Homo sapiens: one gene and its partner. The protein of the gene in region 1 interacts with the protein of each later gene in a biochemical or structural test. Each region holds a gene or a part of one and is shown in the gene's direction. Other genes may lie near its edges.

What was found.
Region 2: the proteins of POLD3 (region 1) and SPRTN form a complex in vitro, tested with the Homo sapiens proteins (one study listed by BioGRID).

Annotation. Positions count from the first base shown.
Region 1 is NC_000011.10:74,583,876-74,600,860, forward strand, and holds the start of POLD3 (DNA polymerase delta subunit 3), read left to right. Parts: upstream 1-8,706; 5' UTR 8,707-8,783; coding exon 8,784-8,843; exon of another isoform or gene 8,844-9,329; coding exon of another isoform or gene 9,330-9,335; intron 9,336-10,185; coding exon 10,186-10,241; intron 10,242-16,985. UniProt on the Homo sapiens protein: Accessory component of both the DNA polymerase delta complex and the DNA polymerase zeta complex.
Region 2 is NC_000001.11:231,343,403-231,359,775, forward strand, and holds the end of SPRTN (DNA-dependent metalloprotease SPRTN), read left to right. Parts: intron 1-4,394; coding exon 4,395-4,523; intron 4,524-7,901; coding exon 7,902-8,169; coding exon of another isoform or gene 8,170-8,204; exon of another isoform or gene 8,205-9,207; coding exon 9,208-9,959; 3' UTR 9,960-11,621; downstream 11,622-16,373. UniProt on the Homo sapiens protein: DNA-dependent metalloendopeptidase that mediates the proteolytic cleavage of covalent DNA-protein cross-links (DPCs) during DNA synthesis, thereby playing a key role in maintaining genomic integrity.

The DNA of each region.
Region 1 (16,985 bases):
AGGCTAGCCAACTGATAGGGTTCCTAAGTTGCCCCCAAGGGCTTCCTTTCCTGTCCAGAGGCCTGGCCTCCTTCCCTCCTCTGAGTTTGGGGATCCTGCCTGCATATAGGTTGATTGCTCATCACCCTGCCCCAATATTGAGCCCTGTCTAGATTTCCCACTCCATGCCCTGTCAGAATCATTAGACTGTCTGATGCAATTATTTCTGGGATGAAGCGGGGATGACGAAGAAGACAGAGGAGGGTCAGCCTTCTACTTCTGACACCTATCTTAGGTTCTTTTTTGAGGCATGGAGGCTGAGGTGGTTCGGTCCTATGGTTCCCACTGCTGGTGGCACCTGACACCAACATCCCCAACAGTTTTGTCTGACCTCTCTTTTCGCTAGAAAATGCTTTGGCTGATTGATTATTCTGGCTTCTGGAGAACTGCTTTTGTTCTCAACATGAGGCACATATGGTAAGCCTCATCCTTAAGGAATAAGGAGTGAGTTGTTGTTTTTTTTTTTTTTTAAAGTGACATTTAAGATGTTGTAAGTAGGAATGGTGGTGCTAGTCCTTTCTGGAGATTGCCTTTTACATTTTATTTTTTTTGAAATGGAGTCTTACTCTGTTGCCCAGAGGGGAGTGCAATGGCAGGATTTAGGCTCACTGCAGCCTCCGCCTCCCGGGTTCAAGCGATTCTCCTGCCTCAGCTTCCCGAGTAGCTGGGATTATAGGCGCCTGCCACCACACCCAGCTAATTTTTGTATTTTTAGTAGAGACAGGGTTTCTCCATGTTGGTCAGGCTGGTCTCAAACTCCCGACCTCAGGCGATCCGCCCACCTCGGCCTCCCAAAGTGCTGGGATTATAGGCATGAGCCACCTCGCTCAGCCGCCTTTTACATTTTAAATAGGGAAACATTACAGAGAACTGGAATAAAAAGAGTTAATTTGACATTGCTAAATGCTCCATTTTTTTCAAAATGAAAATATGTTCATTCTTTTCTGATTATAAAAATGATACAGACTCTTGGCCAGGCGCGATGGCTCACGCCTATAATCCCAGCACTTTGGGAGGCTGAGGTGGGCGGATTGCCTGAGGTCGGGAGTTCGAGACCAGCCTGACCAACATGGAGAAACCCTGTCTCTACTAAAAATACAAAATTAGCTGGGTGTAGTGGCACATGCCTGTAATCCCAGCTACTCAGGAGGCTGAGGCAGGAGAATCACTTGAACCCGGGAGGCGGAGGTTGCGGTAAGCCGAGATCGTGCCATTGCATTCCAGCCTGGGCAACAAGAGTGAAACTCCATCTCAAAAAAATAAATAAATAAAAATGATATGGACTCTTGTTAAAATTTCCAAACACATATAAGAAAAAATAGATATAAAGAAGAGAACAAAAATCAGCCAAATGCTATCGTGTAAAGATAACCACGGTGTTGAGAACATGGGCTTTGGGCATACCTGGGCTGGAAACACATCTTTACCACTTACTACCTATGTGGTTTGGGATAAGTTACTTAATTTCTCTGAGCTCCAGTTTCTTCATCTGTACAATAGGGATAATAATTTAAGCTAAGTGACATCTATAAAATACAGATAATAGTAGGTAAGTAATAATACTTACTTTATTGGTCGTTCCAAAGATTAAATGAAAATATTCAAGTAAAAGGCCTAGCATCGTGCCTACATATGCAGTGAATGGTAATTCATAGTGAACACTCTGAGGTCTCCTTTTTTCTCAGTCCTATATTTTTCCCCTTAAATCTCACTGCTTTTAGTGTAATTACACGTAAGTCAGGACAGGCGCCGTGGCTCACGCCTGTAATCCCAGCACTTTGGAGGCCGAGGCAGATGGATCACCTGAGGTCAGGAGTTCAAGACCAGCCTGGACAACATGGTGAAACCCCATCTCTACTAAAAATATAAAAATTAGCCAGGCATGGTGGCAGGTGCCTGTAATCCCAGCTACTCAGGAGGCCGAGGCAGGAGGACTGCCTGAGCCCAGGAGGCGGAGGTTGCAGCTAGCCAAGATCATGCCACTGCACTCCAGCCTGGGCAAGAGAGTGAGACTCTGTCTCAAAACACCAACCAACCAAACAAACAAACAAAAAAACTAAATCAGTAAACATTTATTAAGAAGCTATTAGACACTGGTGGTGGTGTTGTCATTATTATTATTATATTAGGATGAGGCTAGTTGTAAAGTGCTACTTAGTTATTTGTTTAAGCAAACCTTGTCTTAGAACTTACATGGAATTGTTTTCTACTAACTCTTCCCATTAACAACATAAAATTGATCTCAAATTTGGGTCCTTTTTTGGTGAAGGGATAATTGAATCTAACAGGATTGGCTGAGGATTAAATAAGCCACTCTAGGCAAGGTACTCAAAACACGGTATGTGCTCAATAAATGATAGTTATTATCATCCAAGCAATGTATACAACCTAAAAGACTCTTCATCTGGGATTCATGGCAGTAAAAGTACAGAGGAGTTCTCTTTTCTGGTTTACTTTTGACCCTAAAATGAAGCCTTCAGGCATTATCTAGATAAAATACTAATCTCCTGGACACAGTCCTAGGTTTCTTCACTGGCATTTGCTAGCTGTAGTTCCCTTCTAAATCTAATCAAAGGTCTATACTCCCCTCAAACTTCCCTTACCTCCAACACCTGACTCAAAAACTTTCAAGATTAACTTTTATTTGCCTGGACTCTATGTTGTCATATGATGTGATACTCAACATATCCAATTTGTTACTTGGTTTCTACTGAAAGTAATTCTCACTTGACTGATGTGCACAGGAATCCCAAAATTCTGCAATAAAATGTGTTAGAGTTCACTGTACTTATTATTGGTTTTATATGTACAGTTGTAAACTAATAATGAGATGGCAAAACACAGTGTTTAAGATCATGGATGCTGTAGCCAGATTGCCTGGGTTATACTTCTAGCTGTGTTGCTTTGTGACCTTGGGCAAGTTATTTAACCTCTCTGTGACAGAGTTTACTTTTCTGAATAAAGGGAATAATAACATGCTTTACTTTCTAGGGTTGTTACAGAGATTAGATGGGTTAATATTTGTAAAGCACTTGGAATGGAGCCTGTCATGTAGTCAGTGGTATATAAGTGTTTGTTATATAATAATAGTTGCCATTTATGGAGCACTTAATTATCTCCAAGGCACAGAACATGTTACTTTCAACCCTCTCAATCATGCAAGGTAGATAAATTATTTACAGTGATGCACGAGAGCTGGTTGATGCACTTGCTTATGAGAGCTGAATGTTAAATTTTCAGAAAGTTTGCAAGTCAGTTAAACAGAGCCATTACTGAAAATTAAATTATATAAATGTACAATCAAATTATATTAAACACAAGACAATATTCAAATTTCATCACTTCCTAAGTGTTTTACTACTATCTATGCTCTTTTTCATTTGTGTTTTTCTTTTATAGAGAGACAGGTCTCACTATGTTTCCTAAGCTGGACTCGAACTCCTGGGATCAAGGGATGCTCCTGTCTTTGCCTCCCAAAGTACTGAGATTACAGATGTGAGTCACTGTGCCTGGCCTATCTATGCTCTTGAGGTTATTTATGTTTATTGTGTCTGTATGATGGAAATAATGGTGTGATACTGTGCATCTCTTCCTAACTCTGCATTCTATGGCATCAATATCTGTAGCTTGAATTCTGCTATGTGGAGTATTTATACCACAGAAGTGCAACCACTTCAAATCAGGGCTTTTTTTATTTAGCAAGTTGGTTATTACACATTTATCTGTACATCGCTGGATATTATTATCTCTCTTCTTTTAAGATGATAAAAGAAGTTAAATGATTTGCCTAAAGCCACACTGCTAGTAAGTGGTAAAGCTGGAATTCAGGCCCAGATGTTTGTTTGTTTGTTTGTTTGCTTTCTTGCTTCTCACAAGAAACATTGTTTCCAAAGCCCATATGCTTTTCATTCAATTACGCTCCAAATTGGAAAAGGAAAAATCAAACTGGATAGGCCTTAGACACAGAAACAGAAAAGCTATCTCTTCTCTTCCCCCTCCAGCTCTCCTGCCCTTAACCCAACCCCCAGCCTACCCAATCCTGTGCAGAGCTGTAGTCATTCCTTTCTAGTCCCATTATCCCAACCCAGACTTGGAGATACCTTTCATTATTTATCTTGATTTGATAATCCAATTACTGCCTTGCTTTGCACCACTTTTGCCCATTATCCCTTCTTCCCAGAATCTCCTTTCTATTGTCCAAGGTTAAGATTAAACCCATTCTTTCTAATACCTCTACCTATTTTCTATTTTCCTAGTTTGAAAAGACTTGACACTGTAGTTAAGATTCCTCAAATAATTTCCTTAAACTTTTGATTCACGCAAACATCCATATAGAAAACTATACATATCAAAAGTATATACCTCAAATCATTTTCACAAACTCAACACACCATGCAACCAGCACCAAGATCAAGAATATTACCTTCATCTCAAAAGCCTCCTCATACTCCCTTCCAGTTTCTACCCTCCCAAGGGTAACCACTAATCCAGCTAAGTCATTCAACCCTAATATTGGCAGGTCCATTGGGTTGGGCTGGGCACTCTAAACAGTGTGGTTGATATAGGAGTTAAGAAGAAATCACTTAGGCAGATAGTAAGGGTATAGAAGTCCATGGTAAGGCTTTTCTTTTTCATGAAAAGCAGCCCCAAATCATTTTCTAACAAAGACCAGCCTGTAAAGTTGAGCTTCAGACATAGACAAGCAAGCTGGGAGCTTGCACGGGTGAATGTGGGCAGGAACTAGGGACTAGACATGTTCAAGATGGCGACTCCATCATCCCTTCTCTGCCAGCCACATGTACAGTAAGGAGCAGACAAGATGGTGCCAGCCAAGGAGAGTTCATTTGCATCATAAGATCAGGGTGGGGATACCAGCCTTCACCCCTGGGCTATGTAAATGTCACACCTGATCGAAACAATCTGTGAGCCCTACATAAATCAGACACCGCCTCCTCAAGCTGGACTATAAAGTCCAGCGCATCTGCCACCATGATCACTAGGAGACCCCTCTCTCTATATATAAAGAGAACTGTTTCTCTTTCTCTTCTGCCTATTAAACCTCCGCTCCTAAACTCTTCGTGTGTGTTAGTGTCCTAAATTTTCCTGGTGCCAGACTACCAACCCCAGGGTATATAGCCCAGACAATGTAGCCACCTCATTGTCATCTGCTCCATTTGGCATAGGGATAAGTATCAAGACTCTTCCCTAGCTAATTATCTTGACTTACTTCCCACTCCTGTGGAGCACTGACAAGAGGCCTGAGTTCTGATCCCACAGCAACCACCTAATAATCCTGGAAAAATCTATTTCTCTCTGAGCCGCAACAATCCAGTCTCTAAAATATGGACAATGGCCAGGCACAGTGGGTCACACCTGTAATCCCAGCAGTTTGGGAGGCCGAAGTGGGCGGATCACTTGAGGTCAGAAATTTAAGACCAGCCTGACCAACAAGGCGAAACCCCCTCTCTACTAAAAATACAGTTGGGTGTGGTGGTGCATACCTGTGATCCCAGCTACTCAGGAGGTGGAGGCATGAGAATCGCATGAACCTGGGAGGCAGAGGTTGCAGTGAGTGGAGATCATGCCACTGCACTCCACCCTGGGCGACAGATCAAGACTCCATCTCAAAAAATAAAACAAAATAAATAAACAGGCTGGGCACGGTGGCTCACACCTATAATCCCAGCACTTTGGGAGGCTGAGGTGGGCGGATTGCCTGAGGTCGGGAGTTCGAGGCCAGCCTGACCAACATGGAGAAACCCTGTCTCTACTAAAAATACAAAATTAGCTGGGCATGGTGGTGCATGCCTGTAATCCCAGCTACTCGAGAAGCTGAGGCAGGAGAATCGCTTGAACCCGGGAGGCAGAGGTTGCAGTGAGCAGAGATTGCGCCATTGCACTCCAGCCTGGGCAACAGGAGCAAAACTCCGTCTCAAAATAAATAAATAAATAATAAAATAAAATATGGACAATATAATACATTTGCAGCATTGCTATGAGGACTAAATGAAATATTGCTCTTAAAGTACCTGGTATAGTAGGTCTGGTATATAATAACGTAATAGTCAACGATCATAGATTTTATTGTGTGCAGGTACTGCATGAGAGTTTTATGTATATTATCTCATTTGTAACTGGCCAAATAGAATTATTTGATTTTCTCATCTGCTTCCAGTCTTTCACGTCTCAGTCAAGGGCATCACCATTTACCTAAAGATTTATGTTCCATATCTAGGTATTTTCCTTGATTCCTGTTTTTTCCACACTCCACTCGTGTAATTCATCAGCAGGTTTTGCCGACTCTAAAACAAAACTCAAGTCACTCAGTTCTCTCAATTTCCACTACCACTACTCTATTTTAAAAAATGTATTGGTTTGGCGTTGTGGCTTACGCCTGTAATCCCAGCACTTTGGGAGGCCAAGGCAGGTGGATCACCTGAGGTCAGGAGTTCGAGACCAGCCTGGCCAACATGGCGAAACCCCCTCTCTACTAGAACTACAACAAAATTAGCCGGGTGTGGTGGCGCATGCCAGTAATCCCAGCAACTTGGGAGGCAGAGGCAGGAGAATCACTTGAACCCGGGAGGCAGAGGTTACAGTGAGCCGAGATCGCGCCATTGCACTCCAACCTGGGGAACAAGAGCAAAACTCTGTCTCAAAAAAAAAAAAAATTATTATTTTTTGAGACAGGGTCTCACTCTGTCACCCAGGCTGTATGCAGTGGCATGATCAAGTGCTCACTGCAACCTCTACCTCCTGGGCTCAATCCATCCTCCCACTTCAGAACTGGGACCACAGACCACAGACCACAGGCTCGTGCCACCATGGCTTTTTTTTTTTTTTTTTTTAGTAGGGACGGAGTTTCAGTATGTTGCTCAGGCTGGTCTCGAACTCCTGGGGCTCAAGTGATCCACTTGCCTTGGCCTCCCAAAGTGCTGGGATTATAGGTGTGAGCTACTGTGCCTGGCACTGCTACCCTATTTTATTTTATTTATTTATTTTGAGGGGGGTCTCACTCTGTTTCCCAGGCTGGAGTGCAGTGGCACCATCTCAGCTCACCGCAACCTCGGTCTCCCAGGTTCAAGTGATTCTGCTGCCTCAGCCTCCCGAGTAGCTGGGATTACAGGCGTGTACCACCACACCTGGTTAATTTTTGTATTTTTAGTAGAGACGGGGTTTCGCCATGTTTGCCAGGCTGGTCTCGAACTCCTGACCTCAGGTGATCTGCCTGCCTCGGCCTCCCAAAGTGTGGGATTACAGGTGTGAGCCACTGCGCCGAGCCATTTTATTTTATTTTTAGACGGAGTCTCTCTCTGTTTCCCAAGCTGAAGTGCAGTGGCATGATCTCGGCTCACTGCAACCTCCACCTCCTGGATTCAAGACATTCTCATGCCTCAGCCCTGGGAGTAACTGGGACTATAGGCACGTGCCACCACGCCCGGCTAATTTTTATATTTTTAGTAGAGACAGGGTTTCACCATGTGGGCCTGGCAGGCCTCGAACTCCTGACCTCAGGTGATTCATCCCCCTAGGCCTCCCAAAGTGCTGGGATTACAGGCGTTAGCCACCGCGCCCGGTCTGCTACCCTATTTTAAACCACCACTATCTTTCACTTAAAAATCTCAGAATGTAAGTTACATGTGAACAGGCTCGGTTTATTATTGCTCATAGCTGCAGCCCCAGCACCTCAACACTCAGAATAGTATCTGGCCTTTCTCAGGATTTTGCTATGCTTTGAATGAATGCATGTCGCGACAAGCCTTTGAAGTAGGTACTGTTATTATTCCCATTTTATAGATAAGGAAATAGGCTCCTAGTGGCTAAAGAATTACCTAAGTTTACACAACAAACAGCAAAACCAGGATTCAAACCCAGTAAGTCTGACTCTAGAGCCCACTCTCTTACGCACTACACCTGCGATACTGAACTGCACCGGCTTATGCTGAAGTCAATTATTAAAGATTTTTGCGGGGGTGATACTAGGAGAAATTTGAGTTGAAATTCCCCAACCTGATAACTTTTCTCCAAGTTTTCCTGAGAACACAGCTCAAGCGCCTCTTCACAGTCTCCTAGGCACAACGATTTGGTTTCTCCCAAGTCTCTCTCATCCGCCTCTTCTCCTAACAATCCAGAGATAATGAACTCTTTTCCAGCAAATTCTCCTGCTTCTATCCGAAACACTCAGCCTCTCCTCAACCCCTCTGGAAAAACCTTCCCTAATTTCTCAACTCTGAGGGATTATAACAGGCAGTACTTTTCCCCAGTTGGCAGCACTACTAAAATTACTTGTTTTCAATAGTCTCCCCTTTATCCTGGCTTTCCCGGGTTTCATCACGCGCAGCCAACCTCGGTAGGGAAATATTATACCCAATGACATCTGTTGAGAGACCATATTCACTAATGTTTATTACAGTATAATAATAATTGTTCTATTTTATCGTTAGTTATTTTTGTTAATCTCTTACTGTGCCTAATTTATAAATTAAACTTTATCATAGGTACGTAGGTATAGGAAAAAACCAGCCAGGAGGCCCCGCACTTCGGTGTTTTCTACTAGCTCTGCCTACCTCCGTCTGCGCCGTCTCCCTGACTAGTTTGACCCTTCGAGGGCCGCCGTAGTGCGTCGCCTCCGTTGCCGGGGAAACGACCCGGGACCTGGGAGGGAGCAAAGACGTTTCCCGCCGGCGGGAGCTGTGGCTGTGATTGAGAGAGGGGTTAGAGGCGGGTCCCAGCGCTGCCGCACCATGGCGGACCAGCTTTATCTGGAAAATATAGACGAGTTCGTCACGGACCAAAACAAGATCGTGAGCAGCTACTACTGGGGAACGCGGGCGTGCGACCGGGGTCCTGGGCCCGGCTAGGGCGGCGGGAGCCTTGACCCTCTGTCTGCTTGTGGCTTCGTGGGGACCAGGGGAGACAGGTCCCCACGAGGGGACCTGGGCGAGCTCTGTGCCCCAGAGCGAGCGAGGACTCGTCGGGAAGGTCCTCCAGCACACACGGAAGTCCGCGTCCCTTGGGTGGGCGTGCTGGGAACAGAGCCTGGGGCTGGAGCCGCGGAGACCGGGCGCGGAGGGAGGGCCGTTGGCTGAGAGTTCTAAGGCGTCCCTACACCTTTCTTTTAAGGTGGTTGGCGTTTAAAGTTTTAAGTTTACAGTTGAGGAAATCGTGTCTTAACTGTGTTAAGTTACAAGTTGCGTAACCTCCAGATACTGTTTCCTCTTCCTGGAAATTTAAGCATTGATAGAGGTTTGATCCGCTTCACACGGGTGAGGAAAAGATCGAGCGAATTGATGGATGTGAGTGCACTTTGCAAACCGTGATGATTGAGTGCCTGCTGTGTGCCAAGGCACTTTAATCTTTACAGTGACCTCCCCGCACCCCATCCCAGGTCGGTGGTGGTATCCCGAGATGAGGAAATTGAAGCTGAGGGGCCAAATAACTTGTTTATTTGCGTTTGGTAAGGGATAGGCAGTTTTTCAACCTAGGTCTGTCCTCTTACTAATGCTTTCTTCTACATCACACTGCCTTTGCCTAACCTGTGCAAGTCTTCTAACTATTGGAAGCTTGACATTTGGAATTGGAAGAGACTTTGAGAGAAGAGAGTGCAGGCATCCTGGGTCTAGGAGGGATGAAGGCTTGATGCTGGTAGTTCCCAATCTAATCTCTTATAAAAATATTTACCCACTTTTTTCGTTTCCTGACCCCTGCACCACCTGTGCCCTTTAATGTTTGCATGGGTGCAACTTTCTTTAGAAGTTTCTGAGACATCACACTTCAAAGTCATCTAGCTTCTGAATGAGTTTTAGGATGGCTTTGGCTGGTGGCCCCCAAAAAAAACATCATGAGGAAAGGGCCTGAGTAAAACAAGGAATGTGAGGAAAATGAGAGTTTTTTCTGTTAGGTATGTTCAGCTTGTCTTTTTAGATTACTTTTCATTAGTTCATGAAACAAACTTCTTAGCATTTTTAAGATAAATAGGTCCTGCCTACCCAGATAGATAGTTCTTGGGAAAACTGCAGTGGCATTTATTGTAATTTGTAAGGCATAATCATCTAAGAATAGGAATCTTTAGCAACAGACCTTCGGGACTGATGTGCACTCTGGAGTCATCTAATAAAACATTTGAAAAATTTTTTCTTGTTACAGGTGACATACAAATGGCTGAGCTATACACTAGGGGTTCATGTTAACCAGGCCAAACAGTAAGTCCAATTTACTACCAATTTTAATCATATTGGAATTTTTTTTTGTTTTGTTATGCTTTGCTTTTAACTCTACAGATAGCCTACATAGATTAGAGCTAATTTGGTTTGCTGGCAATCATTGGTATTTCTTGGCTTGTAGCTGCGTAATTCCAATCTCTGCCTTCATTGTCATGGCATTCTCCCTGTATATCTGTATCTTTGCACGTCCATCTTATATGAACACCAGTCATACTGAATTACGAATCCACCCTACTCCAATATGACCTTGTCTTAACTAATTACATGTGCTATAATTCTATTTCTAAATAAGGTCACATTTTAAGGTATTGGGGGTTAGGGCTTTAACATTACCTTTTTGGAGACATGATTCAGTCTGTAATATGGATACAACAAGTTTTGTTTATTCATCATTAATGGACATTTGGGTTATTTCCATATTTTGACTGCTATGAATGATGCTGTTATGAACATTCATGTATAAAACATTCATCTATAAGTGTTTATATGAACATATATTTTCAGTTATCTTGGGTATTTGTGTTAGTCCATTCTCATGCTGCTATGAAGACACACCTGAGATTGAATTTATAAAGACGAGGTTTAATTGACTCACAGTTCCGCATGGCTGGGGAGGCCTCAGGAGACTTGGCGGAAGGCATCTCTTCACAGGGTGGCAGGAGAGAGAATGAGTGTCGAGCGAAGGGGGAAGCCCCTTGTAAAACCGTCAGATTTCGTGAGAACTCACTATCATGAGAAGAGCATGGGGGAACTGCCCCCATAATTCAGTTATCTCCACCTGGTCCGTCTTTGACATGTGGGGATTATTACAATTCAAGTTGAGATTTGGGTGGGGACACAGCCAAACTAGGATTGGAATTGCTGGGTCATGAGATAATTCTGTATTTAACATTTTGAGGAACTGACAAACTATTTTTCAAAATGGCTGCGCTTCTTACAGTCCTAACAGTATATGAGTATTTCAGTTTCTCCACATTCTGGTTAACACTAACACTGTTTTTTCCCTCAGACTTCTCATGGATGAACTCTTTTTTTTTTTTTTTTTTTTTTTTGAGATGGGGTTTCACTATGTTGCCCAGGCTGGATTTGAACTCAAGGATCCTCCCGCCTCAGCCTACCAACTAGCTCTACAGGTGTACATCACCACACCTGGCAAAAACTTTTTATTATGTCTTATTTTAACCATCCTAGTGGATGTGAAGTGGTATCTCATAAATTATGTTGATTGGCATTTTCCTAATGACTAATGTTGCTGAATATCTTTTCATATGCTGCTTGGCCATATCTTTGGAGAAATAGATATTCAAAATTATGCCCATTTTTGTCATTGGGTATTTTTGGTTGTTGTTGAGTTTTAAGAGTTCTTTATATATTCTGAATACAAGACCCTGATTGAAAAATTATTTGCAAAAATTTTCTCCCATTCTGTGGATTGTCTTTGTACTTTCTTGATGGTGTGCTTTGAAGCACAGACATTTTTTGTTGTTGTTGTTGTTTGAGACAGGATGTCACTCTGTTGCCCAAGCTGGAGTGCAGTGGTGTGATCTCAGCCCACTGCAGCCTTGACTTCCCTGGGCTCAGGTGATTTTCCCACCTCAGCCTCCCGAGTAGCCGGGACTACAGGTGCGTGCCACCACACTCAGCTAATTTTTAAATTTTTTGTAGAGATGGAGTCCCGCCATGTTTCCCATGCTGGTCCCAGGCTGGTCTTGAATTCCCAGGCTCAAGCCCCTGCCTTGGCCTCCCAAAGTGCTGGGATTACAGACATAAGCCACCATGCCTGGCCCATGGAAGTTTTTATTGCTGATGAAGTCCAATTTATTTATTTTTCCTTTTGTTGCTTATGCTTTTTTAAGTTTAAATTTTAAAATGATTAAATTTTTTTTAATCTTATTTTTTTTTTTTTTTTAGTAGAGATGAGATCTTGCTATGTTGCCCAGGCTGGTCTCAAACTCCTGACCTCAAGTGATCCTCCCACCTTGGCCTCCCAAAATGCTGGGATTACAGATACAAGCCACTGTGCCCGGCCTAAGAAGATTTTTTTTTTTCTTTTTTTTTTTTTTGAGGCAGAAGCCTTGCTCTGTCGCCCAGGCTGGAGTCCAACGGCGTGATCTCGGCTCACTGCAACCTCCGCCTCCCTGGTTCAAGCTATTCTACTGCCTCAACCTCCGAGGTAGCTGGGACTACAGGCATGTGCCACCATACCCGGCTAATTTTATTGTATTTTTAGTAGAGTTGGGGTTTCACCATGCTGGCCAGGCTGGTCTCGAACTCCTGACCTCAAGTGATCTGCCCGCCTCGGCCTTCTAAAGTGCTGGGATTACAGATGTGAGCCATCGTGCCAAGCCAAGATTTTTTAAATTGAGAAATAAAGTTGTATGTATTTATTGTGTACAACATTATGTTTTGAAGTATATATACACTGTGGAGTAGTTAAATCTAGCTAATAAATGTATTACATCACACAGTTATTTTGGTGGTGAAAACATTTAATGTCTACCATCTTTTCATTTTTCAAGAATATATCATCACTAACTGTAGTCACCATGCTATACAGTAGAGCTCTTGAACTTATTCCTGTCTAACTGTAATTATGTATCCTTTAGACCCACATCTCCCCATTCCCCCTCCCCTAACCACTTCAGCCTATGGAAAGAAAATTCTGCTTTCCACTTCCGTGAGATCACCTTTTACAGATTCCACAAATGAGTGAGATCATGTAGTATTTGTCTGTGTCTGGCTTATTTCAGTTAACATAGTCTCTTCCAGGTTCATCCATTTTGTTGCAAATGATAGGATTTTATTCATTTTTATGGCTGAATAGTATTCCATTGTGTATATACACTATATTTCCTTTATCCATTAATGGACATTTATTGATTCCATATCTTGGCTGTTGTAAATAGTGCTGCAATAAACATGTGAGTGCAAATATCTCTGACATACTGATTTCATTTCCTTTGGATGTATATCCGTAGTGGGACTGCTGGATCATACAGTAGCTCTATTTTTGATATTTTGAGGAACCTCCATACCGTTTTACATAATGGCTGTATTAATTTACATTCCCACCAACAATGTATAAGCATTCTGTTTTCTCCATACCCTTGTTGTGTTTTCTTTTTGATGTGTTGCTTGTGCTTCTGACATAATATCTAAGAAGGCTTTGCCTAACCCAGGGTTATGAAGATTTACTCCTGTGCTTTTTTCTAAGATTTTTTAGTTTTTGCACTTATATTTAATTCTGTAATCCACTTAGAGTTTAAAAAAATCATGGTTATCACTATGTTTAAGTTTTCTACAGATCGTGTGCTTGTTAGCATCATTATTATTATTGTTTTGAGACAGGGTTTCACCCTGTTGCCCAGATGGAAATGCAGTGGCGCAATTTTGGCTCACTGCAACTTCAGCCTCCCAGGCTCAAGTGATTCTCCCTCCTCAGCCTCCCGACTAGCTGGAACTACAGGCGCATGCCACCACACTTGGTTACTTTTTGTATTTTTTGTAGAGACGGGGTTTTGCTGTGTTGTGCAGGCTGGTCTCGAACTCCCAGGCTGAAGCCATCCTCCTGCCTTGTCCTCCAAAGTGCTGGGATTGCAGGCATAAGCCACTGCACCTGGCCATGTACTTGTTAACATTAGAAATGCTTCAGTCGGGTGGCTGTGGTGGCTCAGTTGTATTAGTCCCAACACTTGAGGAGGCTGAGGTAGGAGGATTGCTTGAGCCCAGGAGTTCAAGACAAGCCTGGGCAACATAGTGAGACCCACATCTTTATAAAAAGTTTTTTTAAAACATGAGCCTGGTGTGGTGGCATGCACCTGCAGTCTTAGCTACTCAGAAGGCTGAGGCAGGAGAATTGTCTGAGCCCGGGAGTTCAAGGCTGCAGTGAGCTATGATCACACCTGGGTGACAGAGCAAGAACCTATCTCTAAAAGAGAAAGAGAGGAGAGAGAAAAAAGGGAGGAAAGAAAGAAAAAGAAAAAAATGCTTTAGTTCCTACAGTAAGACTATACTAAAGCTTTCAGATTAGGTGTTAGTTCAAGCTAATTTTTAAATGAATCACTGAAATGTATAAATATTGACTATATCTTCTAGGAATCACTTGGAGTTGATTTTTTGTGTATGGTGTAAGGAAAGGGTCCAGCATCATTTTTTTGCACATGGGTATACGGTTATCCCAGCATTTTATAATTCATATTATTGTCTTGGCATTTTCTTGCTAATTATATGTCTTTCCCCACTAGAATATAAACTCTATGAAGGCAGGAAACTTGTCAGGTTCATCACTGTTCTGATTACTATTGCTGTGTCAGAAATCACCCCAAAATGTAGTGCCTGGAAACATCATTTTATTATGCGCATAGATTCTTTTGCTTTGGAATTTGGATAGGGCACAGTGGGAATGGCTTATGTCTGTTCCATGATGTCTGGCATCCCCGCTGGAAAGTCTCAATAACTGGAACCTGGTCATCTCTAGGCATCTTTATGCACATGTCTGGCTGTTGATTCTGGCCATCTGTTGGGCCTTTAGCTGGGGCAGTGGACTAGAGTGCTTGCATGTGGTCTATCTGTATGGCCTGGGCTTTCTCACAGCCTGGTGTCTCCAGGTAGTCGGACTTCTTACATAGAAGCTCAGGGCTCCAAAAGCTTGTGTTCCAGCACAATGTAGAGCCAATTGCCTTTTCTGACTAGCCTCAGAAGTCAAGCAGTGAATAACTGGTCATACCAGATTCAAGAAGTGGGCTCTACTTCTCAATGAGAGAATGTAGAAGAGCATATGGAATGGAAGATGCTGTCTCAGCCATCTTTGGAAAATATAACATGCCACAATTATTCTGTCTTCAGTGTCAGGCACATAATGAATGCCAATACATACTGAATGAATACCAAGCACTATGGTTTATGTTTGTTTTGAGATAGAGTCTCACTGTATCACCCAGGCTGGAGTGCAGTAGTTCAAACATGGCTTCCTTTAGCCATGACCTCCTAGGCTTAAGGGATACTCCCACCTCAGTCTCCTGAGAGTAGCTGGGACCACAGGTACATGCCACCATGCTAGCTGATTTTTTTATTTCGTAGAGTTGGGATCTTGCTGTGTTGACCAGGCTGGTCTTGAACGTCTGGACTCAAGCAGTCCTCCTGCCTCAGCCTCCCAAAGTGCTGAGATTATAGGCATGAGCCACCATGCTCGGCCTCACTATAGTATTTTCACAAACATTTCTCTCAAGTAATTTTTTTTTTTTTTTTTGACGGAGTCTCGCTCTGTTGCCTAGGCCGGAGTGCAGTGGCGGAACTCAGCTCACTGCAACCTCCACCTTCCAGGTTCAAACGATTCTCCTGCTTCAGCCTCCTGAATAGTGGGGATTACAGCACCTGCCACCACGCCTGGCTAATTTTTGTATTTTTAGTAGAGACAGGGTTTCACGATCTTGGCCAGGCTGGTCTTGAACCCCTGACCTCGCAATCTGCCCACCTCGGCCTCCCAAAGTGCTGGGAGTACAGGCTTGAGCCACCGTGCCTGGCCTCATACTGTTTTTTTTTAGCATTATTTCAGGCTATGTCATACAACAGTAAACCTGACAGACAGGGTCCCTCCCCTGGTTGATTTAAACAAGATAATTTCAGACTGTGAAAATGCTGTGAAATAATTAAGTTGGGTTAGAGAAAGCGGTATGGGCAATACACTGTACTCATCCTGGGGAACATTATGGGTGGAACTGATCAGGAGGGAAGATTAATGAATTAAAATGGGAAGCTATAATTAATCATGTGTAGGAAGTGTATCTTGTAAGAAGTCATATATGTTGTTATTATTATTATTTTTTTTTTTTTTGAGACAGCTCTGTTGCCCAGGCTGGAGTACAATGGTGCAATCTCGGCTCACTGCAACCTCCGCCTTTAGAATTCAAGCAATTCTCCTGCCTCAGCCTCCCGAGTAGCTGGGACTACAGGCACATGCCACCACGCCTGGCTAACTTCTTGTATGTTTAGTAGAGATGGGGTTTCACCATGCTGGCCAGCTGGTCTTGAACTCCTGACCTCGTGATCCGCCTGCCTCGGCCTCCTAACATGCTGGGATTACAGGCATGAGCCACTGTGCCCAGCCTGTTGTCATTCTTATTTAAGAATATTTTATATTTTGTTTATTAAAAAATATTTGGCTTAGGCTGGGCGCGGTGACTAATGCCTGTAATCCTAGCACTTTGGGAGGCCGAGGAGGGCAGATTGCCTGAGCTCAGGAGTTTGAGACCAGGCTCAAGCTATCCTCCTGCTTCTGCCTCCCTGAGAGCTGGGATTACAGGCGTGAGCCACCACACCTGGCGCTACTGAAATACAAAAATACTAAAATACAAAAAATTAGCCAGCGTGTGCCTGTAGTCCCAGCTACTTGGGAGGCTGAGGCAGGAAAATCACTTGAACCTAGGAGGCAGACATGGCAGTGAGCTGAGATCGCGCCACTGCACTCCAGCCTGGCGACAGAGCGATACTCTATCTCCAAAAAAACAGAAAAGTTTGGCTTAAATTAGATAAAACATGTTTTAAAGACTCAAAAAGTAGGCAGGAATTCTTTCCTTTTTTTTTTTTTTTTTTTTTTTTGAGATAGGATTTTGCTCTTGTTGTCCAGGCTGGAGTGTGATGGCACGATCCCAGCTCACTGCAACCTCTGTCTCCCAGGTTCAAGCGATTCTCCTGCTTCAGCCTCCCGAGTAACTGGGATTACGG
Region 2 (16,373 bases), on another chromosome or scaffold:
AAAATTGCCTAACAATGGATTTTTCAGAACATATCCCTGCCAAGTGAGGCACAACTGTAGTTACCTAAATCATAGAGAAGGGGGTTCAGAAAAGGAACAGACTTTATCTGGTTGAGGAGGTCAAGAAAAGCTTTATAACTGTACATTTTGTTACTACCATCACCACTCCTGCTGCTCACTATTGAGCACCTATTGTGTGTCAGACTTTGGACTAAACGTCGTCTTTACCACAGCCATGCAAAATGAGGATATCCCATTTTAGGGATGAGGAGCCACTTGGAGCCTGTCCCAGGTCTCATGCTGTGATTGTGGGTTTAGGTTCCAGTTTCCCTGACTCTAAGGCTCTTGTTCTGTCCCCTTTACCATTCAACTCATCACTCCTGCGATTAAAACATGGAGAGGTGAGCATTAAAGGACGAATTGTACTTTTGACAAGCAGAGATAGGACAGGAGGCTACTCTTGGCAGAAAGCATGGGAATAATGTGAACAAAAGTGAGTTCAGACAACTGGGGGCATATTTAGGACTAGAGGTAGTTCATTTTAACCCGATAGAACAGTCATGGAAAACAGAGGTATTTTGGGACTGTGTTGTGTATAGATCCTTGAATTAAGACTAAATATGGAAAATGATAGATATTTAAAAAGTTCAGTACCATTTTCAAGATGTTTTTTAATGTTTAATTAAATTGAACCAAAAATCAGGAACCTAAATTTGTTTCTCCTTTATGAGAATAGATCTTTATCATTGCTCTAATTTAGAACATTGAGAAACTTTTGCAGTACCTTTCTTGAATTTGAGTCTTCTTCGTTGAGCGGCATTTACTTGAAAAATAAAGTTCTGGCTGGGTACAGTGGCTCATGCACGTAATCAGATAGATGGATTGCTTGAGCCCAGGAGTTGACCTGTCTGGGTAAGATGGTGAGACCTTGTCTCTACAAAAAATTGAAAAAAAATTAGCCAGGTGTGGTGACATGCGCCTGTAATCCCAGCTGCTCAGGAGGATGAGATAGAGGGATCCCTTGATGCCAGGAATTTGAGGCTGCAGTGAAATATAATCATGCCACTGCACTCCAGTCTGGGTGAAAAAGTGAGACCCCATCTCTGAGAAATAATAAGATAAATAAATAAAGTTCCTTTTAAGAGATACAGTTGATAATTTTTAGAGGGATATATGAATGACCAAGTTAAAATGTTTGATTCTCTCATTTTTCTGTTCAGCATAATTTTATAAGACTAAAATTCATTAATGACAGTCTAGTTCTTCTGATGGAAATTGTTTTTTAAAAAAATTATGGAGGATCATGAAAAAGGTATGTCTTTGAAGATCTTTCTGATTTTTGCTTAAAAAAATTATTTATATTTTTTAGAGCAAAAACCCCAGCAATCTTAAATGCTTTTGTTAATTTTGCACAGAAACTTGTGCATCTTTGGTGTGGAATGAGCAGTAGGTTTTAGTGTTTGTTTCAAGTTTTCATGATTTCTGAATCAAAACCCAAAAGCTGTAGAAAGCTATACACAAAGATGTCTTGTTCAGTGTCCTCCTCTATCTTGAACTCCTTACTTGCTGTAGGAGCTGTTAGTTTCTTTTCATTTTTCTGTTTTGCAAATATTTCTATTCATTTTTATTCCTCCTCCCCACCATACAAAATTTTTCTTACACAAAATACTATGTACATTCTTCTGTACTTTGTCTTTTTCTTTTTCTTTTCTTTTCTTTTCTTTCTTTCTTTCTTTGTTTCTTTCTTTTTTTTTTGTTGCCCAGGCTGGAGTGCAATGGCATGATCTCGGCTCACTGCAACCTCTGCCTCCCAGGTTCAGGTGATTCTCCTGCCTCTGCCTCAGCCTCCCGAGTAGCTGGGATTACAGGCGCCCGCCACCATGCCTGGCTAATTTTTGTGTGTTTAGTAGAGACGGGGTTTTACCATGTGGGCCAGGCTGGTCTTGAACTCCTGACCTCAGGTGATCCACCTGCCTCGGCCTCCCAAAGTGCGGGGATTACAGGCATGAGCCACTGTGCCCAGCCCCCTGTCTTTTTCATTAATACGCTCTATAGCTTTCTCCAAACCATTTCATGTAGATCCTTCTCATTCTTTTTTGTGGCTGCATAGAATTCCATTATATGGATGTATAAAACACTGGAGTTATTTCTAATCTTTTGCTGTTATAAGCAGTGTCACAGTGAATACACCTTGTGCATATGACCTTGCATGCTAGTCTAGGTATTGCTCTCTCAGAAGACAAATGCATTTGTAATTTTGTTAGATGCTACCAAATTTTCCATAGGAGAATTGCACTCCCACCAGCAGTATATAGGAATGTTTATTTTCCCTTAGCTTTACTAATGGTGTCAAACTTTAGGAGTTTTACCAATCTTGATAAGCAATAAATAACATCCTAGTGTAGTGTTGGGTTTTTGTGGGGGTTTTTTGTTTTTTGAGACAGGGTCTTGCTGGGTTGTCCAGGCTGGAGGTAATCATAGCTCACTGCAACCTTGAATTCATGGCCTCAAGTGATCCTCCCATCTCCGCCTCCTGAGTAGCTAGGACTACAGATGCACAAGCTAATTGTTTTATTTTTATTTTTATTTTTTTGTAGAGACAAGGTCTCACTATGTTGACCAGGCTGGTTTTGAACTCCTGGCCTCGAGCAATCCTCCCACCTCAGCCTCCCAAAGTGCTGGGATTACAGACATGAGCCACCACGCCTGACCATCCTAGTGTAGTATTAATTCGCATTTCTCTTTTTATAAATAAAGTTGGGCATTTTTTCTTTTCTTTTCTTTTTTTTTTTTTTTTTTTTTTTTGAGATGGAGTCTTGGTCTGTCATCAGGCTGGAGTGCAGTGGTGCATTCTCGGCTCACTGCAACCTCTGCCTCCCAGGTTCAAGCAATTCCCCTGCCTCAGCCTCCTGAGTATACTGCTCGGACTACAGGCGGGCGCAACTATGCCCAGCCAAAATTTTTTTTTTTTTTTTTTGTATTTTAGTAGAGACAGGGTTTCACCATGTTGAGCAGGATGGTCTCAATGTCCTGACCTCGTGATCCGGAAGTTGGGCGTTTTTTCATTTGTTTGTGGGTCATTTATACTTCTTCTGTGAACTCCATGGTCTTTGCCCATTTTGAAATTGGGTTGTCATTCCCTGTTGACATTAGGAGCTCCTTGTATATTAGGAATAGCCTGTGATAAGAGTTATACATATATTTTTCTGAGTTTGTCTTTTTACTTGGTGTTTTTTTCCTATAGAATTTTAAAGTTTTGTCTGGGTGCAGTGGCTGACGCCTATAATCCCAGCACTTTGGGAGGCTGAGGCGGGCAGATTGCTTGAGGTCAGGAGTTTAAGACCATCCTTGCCAATATGGCCAAACCCCATCTCTACTAAAATACAAAAATTAGCCAGGCATGGTGGTGCACACCTGTAGTGCCAGCTACTCAGGAGGCTGAGGCACGAGAATCACTTGGACCGAGGAGGCAGAGCTTGCAGTGAGGAGAGATTGAGCCACTGCACTCCAGCCTGGGCAACAGAGTAAGACCCTGTCTCAAAAAAAAAAGAATTTTAAAGTTTTTATGTAGTTGAATTCATTGATTTTTCTGGATTTTGATATATAGTCAAAAAGGTCTTCCTAGAACAGGGAGTTCTTAACCTGTGATTTTCAGAGCTTTAGATGTTACACAAATTTGAGTACCCCTTCTCTGAAATGCCTGGGACTAGAAGTGTCTTGGATTTCAGATTTATTTGGATTTTGGAATATTTGTGTTATTCTTACAGGTGGAGCATCCCAAATCTGAAAATCCGCAATGCTCCAATGAGCATTTCCTTTTGAGTGTCATGTCATTGCTCAAGAGTTTCTGATTTTGGAGCATTTTGGATTTTCAGAGTTGGGATGCTCAACTCATATGCAATATTTTGTGAATGAGTGCTTATATAATTTTTATAGAATGAGGTGGGTTTTTTGTTGTTGTTGTTTTGTTTTTGTGAGACAGTGTCTCATTCTGTCCCCCAGGCTGGAGTGCAGTGGCACAATCACAGCTCACTGCAGCGTCAACCTCCCCAGGCTCAGAGGATCCTCCCACCTCAGCCTCCTGAGTGTAGCTGGGATTACAGGCATGCACCACCACACCTGGCTAATTTTTGTATTTTTTTGTAGAGACAGGGTTTCGCCATGTTGCCCAGGTTGGTCTCCAACCCCTGGGCTCAAGTGACCCTCCCACCTTTGCCTCCCAAAGTGTTGGGATTACAGGTGTGAGCCACTGCACCCGGCCTAGAATGAGTTTTATCAGTTCTGAAGGAAGCCTGTGATACAGAAAAGGTTAGACACCAGATAGAATAAGAAAATTTATATTTTCCAAAGTGTCATACAGACTCTAAAACTAATTTGAATATTTTATGTTCCAGACCCTCCTGCATGAAATGATACATGCCTATTTATTTGTCACTAATAACGACAAAGACCGAGAAGGGCATGGTCCAGAATTTTGTAAACATATGCATCGCATCAACAGCCTGACTGGAGCCAATATAACGGTATAGAAAGCCATATCTATTTATGATGTTTAGTAGTTGTTTATTCAATAACTCCTGAGATTTAATTAAAAGTAGAGAACTAGGTAGAAACAAGTATCTTTGAGGATTTTCCACAGCGAACGAGAGGCCTAGAGAAGCAAATTGGCTTGTCTGGGACTACATGGTGGAATGGCAGCAGAGCCAGTGATATCCCTGAGGCCTCTGACCTCTTCTGAGTCAACATTTTACACACAGGTAATTCAGGCCTGCAGTACGTCACTTCTGGAATCATCATGATCTCTTAACTTTGTTTCCTTATTATTGTCTTTTTTAGTCCATCCTGTATCCTGCTACCATTGCAGATGTCATTCCCTCATCAGAATTCTTCTTTGATTCATATCTCTGTATAGCATTGTAGGAGATAGCAAAGCCTCAGGTTCAAAAAGCTGGAGGCGTCAGGCTGCTTGGATTCAAATCCTGGCTCCACCAATTATTAACTTTCCTATGCCTCATTTTATACCCATGGCAAATGAGAGTAGTAACAATACCTATCTGTTGGATCCTTGTGAGGAGAAAGGATTAAAGGAGAAAGCACATCAAAACATTTTAGCCCAATCTGACACTAATTAAATATTAGTTTTATTGTATTCATTTTATTAAATAACCTTGTTCCTTTTTTACTGCCTCCAACTCTGCTGCCTGTGTCCTGTCTCTTTAACTGCACTTTTGACCTCCCTGCCTTTCCTCAGGTGTAGCTTCCCTGAGGCGTGCCACTGCTCTGTTTTGTGTCCGAATGCTTTTCATCGTTCCAGTGGCATCTCATTTCTCCCTCTTTTGAATCCTCAGCAGATATTTAAGCTATTACAATTTTTTATGCTACTTTCATACTTTTGAACGCAGGGTAGGTCTTGCCCATCTTTATAGTACATCTGTATAAGGTGTATAATGTACTGAATTGAATATTAATAGGATAGATTAAATTCTTTCTTATGTTTGGGTATTTCCTTCCTTTAAAAGGCAACAAAATCCACTGTGATAGAAAATGAACAGTGCTCAACCGCCATGTTTTGTTTATTTATTTATTTAAGATAGGGTCTTGCTCTGTTGCCCAGGCTGGATGCAGTGGTGCATTCATAGCCCACTGCAGATTCAACCTCCTGGGCTTAAGTGATCCTCCCACCTCAGCCTCCTGAGTAGCTGGGGCTACAGATGTGTGCCACCATGTCAAGCTAATTTAAAAAAAAATTTTTTTTTTTAGAGACAGGGTCTCACCATGTTGCCCAGGCTGGTCTTGAACTCATGGGTTCAAGTGATCCTCCCATCTCAGCCTCCCAAAGTGGTGGGATTATAGACATGAGCTACCATGCCTGGCCTCTCCATGTATTACTATTTTCTAGCTATCAGTTTTAATTTTCTAAAGACTTCATTTCATTATTAGACACAGTTACTTCAACATTAGGAAAGTGTCTTGCAGTTTTTAAAAAAATCAGACATAAAATCCGGGTTAGCAAGAGAATTATAGACTTGCTTGTATAAAATACATTAAGTTTCTTAACCAGAACTTATACTTTAAGCAAAGCCCTTGTATACGTCCCATTGTTCAGCTGGAAGAGTATCTGTTCTTTTATCTTAGATATCTGTGTGTTTTTATTTAGGAGAGGTTGTAAGGAGTGAACACTCCTTGCTTTTACAGGTTACATCCTGTTATAAGGAACTCTGCAGGGTATCTACATTGTAGAGTAATTTTATTTTAGTGACTACATTGTTAAAAGTCACATTCCCAAGCGTTAGGAGTTACAGGAATTGGAAGCAGAACAGATCCAGGCTGGGTGTGGTGGCTCACGCCTGTAATCCCAGCACTTTGGGAGGCCGAAGTGGGAGGGTAACTTGAGCCCAGGTGTTTGAGATCAGCCTGGGCAATTTAGTGAGACCTTGTTTCCACAAAAAAAATTCAAAAATTAGCTAATCGTGGTAGCTCACGCCTGTATTCGCGGCTACTCGAGAGGCAGAGGTGGAAGGATCACTTGAGCCTGGGAGGCGGAGGTTGCAGTGAGCCAGGTTCATGCCACCTCACTCCAGCCTGGGCAAACAGAGCAAGTCCATGTCACAGAACAAACAAACAAAACAGATCCATTTGTCTCTCTTTTTGGGTAATGAATTAAGAGTTCTGAACATAATAGAGTGCGTGGTTTCCCGTGCTTCTTTGCCTTAAAACCTATGTCCTTCAGTCCCTTCTGCATTTAATATAATGTGCATTCTTTGCATGCTTACCAAGTAGAAATTTTTTGCTTAGGATGGAGCGATAGTGAGTTTAAAACTATCTATAGAGTTATAGAAAGCTTAGCATTCTTTCCCACAAGGGGAATTTATTAGAAAGCTAAATGTCTTTGGTAAAACACCAAAATCTTACATACAGATGCTTCTCACTCTTACACAGAGAGTTCCACTGAGAAGGCAGAAGAATAAGGTGCCCATAGTCATTTAGGAGTCATTTCAAATGGTGCTCTATAGTCTTCAGTGCCACCATGCTGGGAGGGCTGACCCTCTTTTCAGTCAGGTCTTTTCCCTTACCTGTTTTCTGCTTGGGTTCCAAATAGGATTTTTGTCTAGAGGGTGAAAAAGAAGGCATCCTACTTAAGGCCTGAAAAGCACACTTCAGAGAATTTTATTTGACTCAATGAATGATGCTTTTCTGACTGAGCACCTTCTTGGTGCCAAAAGCACTATATTAGCCACTAGGGACACAAAAAATTAAAACATTCAGATCCTGGAGAACTTTTCAGTCTGGTAATAGAAATATTTATAAACAGATAAAATGGTACCTCATAAGGCTTATTACAGAGACATAAGCACAGAACTTGGAGAATGTGGAGAGTGAGCTTAGCAGAAGCTTCACTGGGTAAGATACTTGTGTTGTTAGCGTCAGTCAGGCATTTATAGGGAGTAATGTAGTCCTTTAGAACCCTTTGCTATTTTTACTTATAGGGAAAACTTCAATTTAGCAGTGGGAATGATTCTTATTTTAGTATGGTATTACATAAAATCTTATCTTTATCCTAATTTTTGATCATTTACAAATTTGATTTCTGAAACTTTTAGTGTTCATGAAGATTTTCTGTGGTTTTGTTTTTAAAAGATTTTTTTGTCCTCTAATCCCATGTGCATCTATCTTTACACAGTTTATGAAGTATTAACTGCTGCTGTTTCCCATTAAAATCAACTTTTGAACAGAAACTAAATATAGTTGCTTTCTCTCCTAAAATAGAACTTTTCAGAAAGCTCTGGGAAAGTTTCAAAAATTAAAAAAAAAAAAAAAAAAAAAAAAGACTGCTTATGTAAATTGTTTTCTTGCAGTTGTTAACTTGCTTATTGAATACTAAAAATTCTGTCTCCACTCAGGTATACCATACTTTTCACGATGAGGTGGATGAGTATCGGCGACACTGGTGGCGCTGCAATGGGCCGTGCCAGCACAGGCCACCGTATTACGGCTATGTCAAACGAGCTACTAACAGGGAACCCTCTGCTCATGACTATTGGTGGGCTGAGCACCAGAAAACCTGTGGAGGCACTTACATAAAAATCAAGGAACCAGAGAATTACTCAAAAAAAGGCAAAGGAAAGGCAAAACTAGGAAAGGAACCAGTATTGGCCGCAGAGAATAAAGGTACCTTCGTGTATATTCTTCTGATTTTTATGTGACCATAGCTATGATGTAAAGACAATACTGTCCTTCAGAGAACTGGTATTAAGATAAACTTAAGGATCGTTTCTGGTGTAGAAGTCTTCAAGTGTAGACTTAAGGAAAAAATCCCACTGTCCATGAAATGATGGTAGGAAAACAGACTTTGCTCTGTACAGAAGTAAGTAAAAGTAGGAATAGTTTCCATGGATATTTTTATTTTTATTAACTTTTTTCAGTTTCTTTTTATTCAAAGAAACAAAATTCAATCTCTGATAATATTTGAGGTAAAGTTCCTTTCCCTATCTTGACTCACTGAGTTATTAGGAAACAGAAGGCAAAAAGATTGTCAAAATAAAAACAATAATTCAAGTAACAATGCCCGGAATATACGTCCTAACTACACCCCTTCCTATCAGCTGGATTCTATCCAAGTGACTCTATTGATGTATGTATGTTCATTCAAAGAATGGGAAAAGGATATGACATATATTTGCCAGTACTTCATCTTCAAGATTTACCCTTTTCCTGTGAAGTTCAGAGTTACTGAAGATGCTTCTTCCCTTGGGAAGTTGTTGACCCAAGAACATAGGTTATATTTCCCAAATCTTTAATTATTGAGTGAAAGAGCTATAGATGAATTGATATGGAAAGACCGTATCTTCATTTTCGTGAGTAGAAGGAAAGATAAGAATGAGGCAGCAGATTTTCCCTCCTGGAATTACACATAAAGGACACTAAGCAATTTTCAAGGTAAATGTTGCCTTGTTGTTGGTCTTTGGCATGATAAGATTCTTTATTTAAATATGAGAGAATTTTTTTTTATCCTTTATATTCTCTCAATATCAGAACTCCTGAATTCTGAAGATTGCCCTCCTCCCATTAATAGGATTGTATGGATGTAAGATGGAATAAAATACTAGTTCTTCATTTTGAGAAAACTGTACATTAGTTTAATGTTTGTTACTGTATTTCTTTTGAGTTGAGGCACTTACATAACAATCTTCTTTGCTTTTTTGGCAGATAAACCCAACAGAGGTGAGGCCCAGCTAGTAATCCCTTTTAGTGGGAAAGGATATGTTCTAGGAGAAACAAGCAATTTACCTTCACCTGGGAAACTGATCACTTCACATGCCATTAATAAAACCCAAGATCTTTTAAATCAAAACCATTCAGCAAATGCTGTAAGACCTAATTCTAAAATCAAGGTGAAATTTGAACAGAATGGTTCAAGTAAAAATTCTCATCTGGTCTCCCCTGCTGTTAGTAACAGTCACCAAAATGTTCTAAGCAACTACTTTCCTAGAGTATCATTTGCCAACCAAAAGGCTTTCAGAGGTGTGAATGGATCTCCAAGGATAAGTGTAACAGTTGGCAACATCCCTAAAAACTCAGTCTCTTCTAGTTCTCAGAGAAGGGTTTCATCTTCTAAGATATCCCTAAGAAATTCTTCAAAAGTAACGGAATCAGCATCTGTGATGCCATCCCAGGATGTGAGTGGGTCTGAAGATACATTCCCAAATAAACGACCTAGGCTAGAAGATAAGACTGTTTTTGACAATTTTTTTATCAAGAAAGAGCAAATAAAAAGCAGTGGTAATGATCCAAAGTATAGTACAACCACAGCTCAGAATTCCAGCAGTTCATCCAGTCAGAGCAAAATGGTTAATTGCCCAGTTTGTCAGAATGAAGTTCTGGAGTCTCAGATTAATGAGCACTTGGACTGGTGCCTTGAAGGTGACAGCATCAAAGTCAAAAGCGAAGAAAGTCTTTGAAAAAGGTTTCAAAGTCTCAAGTACCACCTGTATTATCTCACTAATGTGCTATGTCAGCCAGTCAGGAAGTTCTGGTTAATACTAAGATTTGTAGGTTATAATCTAGTTCACATAACCAATAGAAAGTGTCCTATTTTATATATACGCATATAAGATTGTAATTTTAAGATGTTTTGTGTCTCAGGGTGCTACATTCACTCTTGCCTTAGGTATACTGTAACCCAGGTTCTGCCTGTCGTGTATAAGTTTTAGATACTTTTGTTCTTTCTTGCTCTTAAGGATTTTAAAAACCTGTTAATCTTTTTATTTGTATACTTTCCTAAAAATATTCATATGGGGAATCCTGTCAGGTGTTTGGTTATATTGACTATTTATTAATAGTATTAGAACTCATTCCCTGAACTGATGTAAATCTTCATAGTGTCAGACATACTGACCAAAACCACAATCTAGACTACAAAGTATATTGTTTTAGAGTACTCAAATTGTATTATTTATTAATTTTTTTGTTTGCAAAATCTTAACAGGAACTGTATTTTCTATATTTTAAAGAATTTTATTTGTCCCACTTTTACTAAACAGTGGCAGCAGATTTTAAGTTAAAGAATATGGAATATAGTAAAATAAGTAAATTTCTTTTGGAATATTTTTAGTAACAAATAGCCACTATAATTCTGTAGGCCAAATTTTATATTGAGTTTAGCTGTTTTCTCAAAATTTAGCAGAGTGGTTAAAATTCTGTGCTGATAAGTAACTGATACATATAACATAAACATAACAAAGTTGCCTAGTTGATGTAACAGTGGAAAGTTATCTGGAAATAGTATTTTGAACTTTAAGCCAAGTTTAAAACATTATAATAAAAGGAATACCATTTGTGCATTTTAAGTAATCTTTTTTAAAAAAAATATTTTCCATGTTATAGGGAAAGGACAAAGAGACTTTTATCAGTTTGCTTTTTGTCTTGTGGCTGTACATGCTGTTGGCATAGCCCTAACACAGTTGTTCACAAGTTTTCTTTTTTCTTGTTGCAATTTTCCTTCACTTTGTTGTAATACAGGTGCACAAATCTTAAGTGCACAGCTGGGTAAACTTTTACAGTGTTCACCTGTGTAACTACCACCCGGATCAAGTTAGAGAACACTTCCATTGCCACAGAAGGCTTCCTATAGGTGTCTGTTCCCAGTTGATACCCATGACCCTCACCACCTCCAGAGGTCCCCACTGTTTTCACCCCATCGTCGCAGATTATTTTTTAATTTTATAATGTAGTATCTTTGTTCCTATGTATAGCAGGAGTTCATTTTCATTGCTCTTGCATTTGTATGAATATACTAGAATTTATTCATCCATTCTAATGTTAATGGACATTTGAATTATTTCCAGTTTGGGGCTGTTAAGCATAATGCTGCTAAGAACATTCTTATCTTTTCTGTTGGGTATATATACAGGAATGGAATTGCTGAGTCACGGGGTATATTTCTGTTTAGCTTTAGTAAATTCTGCCAGTTTACACTCCTACCAGCAATGTATGAGAGTTTTAGTTGTTCACCATTCATAACACTGTTAGCAGCCCTTTTCGTTTTAGACTGGTTGGCTGTTCACAAATTTTGATATTCCTTAAAGCATTAAAACATTTTAATAAATACTTATAAATAGGTATTAAAATGTATATTATGTTCAATATATAGTTATATTTTCATAGAGGATCATTTCTCTAAATGAATGTAACAAATTATGTGTAATTAAATGCTTCCTGAGCCAAAACCACACAAGGTTCTGGGGCTGTGAAGTAGCTGAGATGGTCCATGTCCTCAAGGAGCTTTACAGCATAGTTGGGGAGTAAGACAAATGCACATTAATCTCCTTAGAGTTTGCTAAGTGCTATGACAAGGGTTTTTGCTGGGTGCTGTGGGTAAACTGTAGGAAGAAAAATTAGCTCTGCCCAGGACTTCGGGGGATGTTTCTTGGAGGAGACAACATCCAAAGTTGAATCATGTAGAGTGAGTCGAGTTAGCCTGGTTAAAGAAGGGTGGGGAAGAACCTTTCAAAGGGAAGAAGGAACACAAAGTCATGTTCCGAGGGAACTGAATGCTATTCCAAGTGAATAGAGTAAAATGTGAGGGGCAAAATGGCCAAAGGAGAGATGGCAGATAGGACAGATCTAGCTAAGTAGTACAAGTTTGAGGCCAGGGATCTCATGTTCCTCACTTTATGTCTGGTTTGTGTGATACCTGCTAATAAGCATCTCTTAATTAAGGTGGGGCTTGGAAAGGCTTATAAGCCAGTCGAGGACATGTTGAGAAGTGTTTCCAATGGATTTTTCTGGGGACAGCATAGATAAGAGGGGGAAGGGTAGTGGCAGGGAGGGAGAGGAAGAGACAATTTTTTGAGAAACAGGTAGTAAAGTCAGGAGTTGGTTTCAGGTTCTAGGGAATGATGGAAATAGTTGAGAAAATGGAACTCAATTTGAAATAAGCCTTACTACATCTGTTAAACACTTGAGAAAATTTGCACCCTAAAAATTCTGATATTCCCCCAAATATGTCATTCATAATAGAGACATAGTTTTGTTTCTGTTTAGATTTTCCCTTTTAAAGCCAACTTCCCAACTTAGAAGCAGAGCTGGTAATTCTGGCTCAATCCTTAAATGCTATCCCCCTGCTGTGGGGACATGGGGTCTAGATTCTGTTTTTATAAAACGGTGGGTTTTGGGTTTTTGTTTTGTTTTTTGAGATGGAATCTTGCTCTGTGGCCCAGGCTGGAGTGCAGTGGCACAATCTCGGCTCACTGCAACCTCCGCCTCCGGGGTTCAAGCAATTCTCCTGCCTCAGCCTCCCAAGTAGCTGGGATTAAAGGCGAGCGCCACCACACCTGGCTAATTTTTGTATTTTTAGTAGAGATGGGGGTTTCACCTTGTTGGCCAGACTGGTCTCAAACTCCTAACCTCAAGTGATCTGTCTGCCCTCGGTCTCCCAAAGTGCTGGGATTACAGGCGTGAGCCACCATGCCCTGCGAAAACAGTGTTTATTTTAAGGTCAGTGTTATATGTTACCTAGCCTTAATTTTTACTTTAGAAAATTGTGCTGGGCAGCCGGGCGTGGTGGCTTACGCCTGTAATCCCAGCACTTTGGGAGGCCGAGGTGGGCGGATCACGAGGTCAAGAGATCGAGACCATCCTGGCCAACGTGGTGAAACCCCGTCTCTACTAAAAATACAAAAAATTAGCCGGGCGTGGTGGCAAGTGCCTGTAATTCCAGCTACTCGGGAGGCTGAGACAGAAGAATCGCTTGAAGCTGGGTAGCGGAGGTTGCAGTGAGCCGAGATTGTGCCATTGCACTCCAGCCTGGGCAAAAAGAGCGAAACTGTGCCAAAAAAAAAAAAAAATTGCACTGGGCATGGTGGCTCACGCCTGTAATCCCAGTACTTTGGGAGGCTGAGGTGGGTGGATTACGTGAGATCGGAAGTTTGAGACCAGCCTGGCCAACATGGTGAAACCCCGTCTTTACTAAAAATACAAAAATTAGCCAGGTGTGGTGGCATGCACCTGTAATCCCAGTTACTCAGGAGGCTGAGGCAGGAGAATCGTTTGAACCCAGGAGGCAGAGGTTGCAGTGAGCTGAGACTGCACCACTGCACTCCAACCTGAGTGACAGAGTGAGACTCTGTCTCAAACAACAACAACAACAACAACAAAAAGCTGGGCATGGAGGCTCACGCCTGTAATCCCAGCACTTTGGGAGGCCGAGGCGGGCAGATCACGAGATCAAGAGATCGAGACCATCCTGGCCCACATGGTGAAACCCCATCTCTACTAAAAATAAAAAAATTAGCTACTCAGGAGGCTGAGGCAGGAGAATTGCTTGAACCCAGGAGGCGGAGGTTGCAGTGAGCCGAGATTATGCCATTGCACTCCAGCCTGGCGACAGAGCTAGACTCCGTCTCAAAAAAAAAAAAAAAAAAGAAAATTTTGTTTTGCTTTTTGTAGACTATGGATATGCATATGCATATCCTAACTGGGAATTCTAAAGTGGAAAGGAAAATACTATGACAAAACTTCATACTGTCCCATTGTCTGATAGCTCTGAGATCATACTTTTAAAGCTTACAGGACTTTAAAATACGAACGTCAAAGTGAAACAACTGATGTACCTGCAAAACTAGCACCTAGCTGGACCCTTTCTGGGTGCGTGCAGTGTCAGCTCTTTTTATGTTGTGTTTTAAGTTTTTTATCCTGGTATTGCATTAATCGTGATCCAATGGTTTCCTTTTATTCTTCGTCTCAATTTTTTTTTTGTCCTTAAGGCTACTGTGGACTTTTTAGCAATTTGTTGTAGTTGTTGACTATCGGCATATTCACCAACAGAAGTGAAACTCTTCATATGACAATTATAAATTAAAGTGACTAAGGAGTTGAAATTAGAACAGAATGCAATGTGCAGATTAGCTCTGGCTTTTTCCTAGTATCCCATTAGAATGTTAGAAGTTATAATGATTACATATTTCATCATCACATATCTTTCGAAATGAAGAGTAGAATCTTAAATGACTCTGGACTGTAGTACAGAAGCAAGGTGCCATTTGTTTTCTTCAGTACTGGTGCTAAATTTACCAAGATTTACCATCTTGCTTAGTGAACACTAGGTGGTGCTCTTGGTAAGCCAAACTTCTGGCTGAGCCAAGCCAAGTGGATAAAAGAAACTTGCGACAACTGGAACACTAATTACCAGTTGATTCATAGATAGGAAAGAACAAGTTATGATCTCAAGTTCTGTGAGGGGACACGGCAGGCCAAGAATGTGTGCTTGTTCAAACAAGGACTGATCTACAGAACACTTTAGTCTCCCTAAACCTGTTTTCAAGCATTTCACCTTTCACTCTAAACATGTAACATAGTAGTCTCCTGCAAGAAAGAAACTGGTACCCAGACAGGGCAAAACAAGATCATGCTCAACCGGCTATCTATCTTCTAGACAAGGCAAGACCTGTACTTTTGTACTGTTTCTTATAGTACTCTAAACTATGTCTTTTTGCCTCTACCTGAGAGGTCTGAAAGAGCCAACAGGCAGCTTTTGGATTCTTGGTGTTAAGTGAATGTTAGGGCTGGGTATTCTCATGTTCCATGGTTATACACCTTTGCAAAAAAAAACACCTGAACACTGACTCTTCTCTATACTTCTGAAGAATCAAAGTTATAGGTATATTTTCAAGCTAGAATACTCTTGAGACCTAAATCATTTCCAGGTTGTAAGCATTCCTGGTAAACTAAATATATGATAACCTGGATTTGCATGAAAACTGGGAGGGTATTTTTTTTTTTAAACAAAAGATTTCTCATAGTACTCATATATGTATTTGTACGCCTTTAAAATAATTCAGTAGGTAAATATTGGCTGGGCACGGTGGCTCACACCTGTAATCCCAGGTCTTTGGAAGGCCGAGGCGGGTGGGTCCCTTGAGGCCAGGAGTTTGAGACCAGCCTGGGCAACATGGTGAAACTCCGTTTCTACTAAAAATACAAAAATTAGCCGGGCGTGGTGGTGGGCGCCTGTAATCCCAGGTACTCGGGTGGCTGAGGCACGAGAATTGTTTGAACCTACGAGGTGGAGGTTGCAGTGAGCCGAGATCGCGTCACTGCACTCCAGCCTGGGCGACAGAGCAAGACCCTGTCTCCAAAAAATAAATAAATAAATTATATATATATATATATATATATATATATATATATATATATATATATATATATATAAAATTTGTGTGTATACATATGCATACCTACACACGTCTAAGTGGCTTTATTTTTATATGGACCCACATAAGTTTGTTGTTAACACCAAACAGCCACCTTCATGGGATCCATGTGCAGAGGCTGGAGCCCAGCTTCTCCACATGACGTGAGTCACCCGAATTGTTGGGTTTGTAGATTGGTCTCACTGATGTACGGGATTTCATTGTGCAACTATACCACAAGGGAGCACGTGTGTGTGTCATACTTTCTAACCCTTCGTAACTGTTCTGTTCTTGGCTGCTTCCCTACCTTTTTTGCAATGCCCTTCATTATATTTCCACTTGGTCACCTTGTAGCTTAAATTAATTCATCTTTTTCAATTTCTTTGCTGAGTTACTTCAACTTTTCTCAGCTTCCTCTGTTTTTTCCCCCCCTTTGGTCCATTTTTGTTTTGAGATTTAAATTTCTAATTTCACGTTAATTTTTATTTCTGCAAAGGCCTATTTAATTCATACTAGATATTGGTAGTTTTCTTCTGCCTGTGGTTGAGAATTTTCATCAGCTGTAATTGATTCTCATTTTTTCTTCTAGTAGTTTTTATGGATGTTATCTTCCTTTTTCTGCTCATATTAAAAGGTTTTATTTTCCTTGTCTTGCAAAACCAGTTGGTTCTCTGCAGGCAGGGA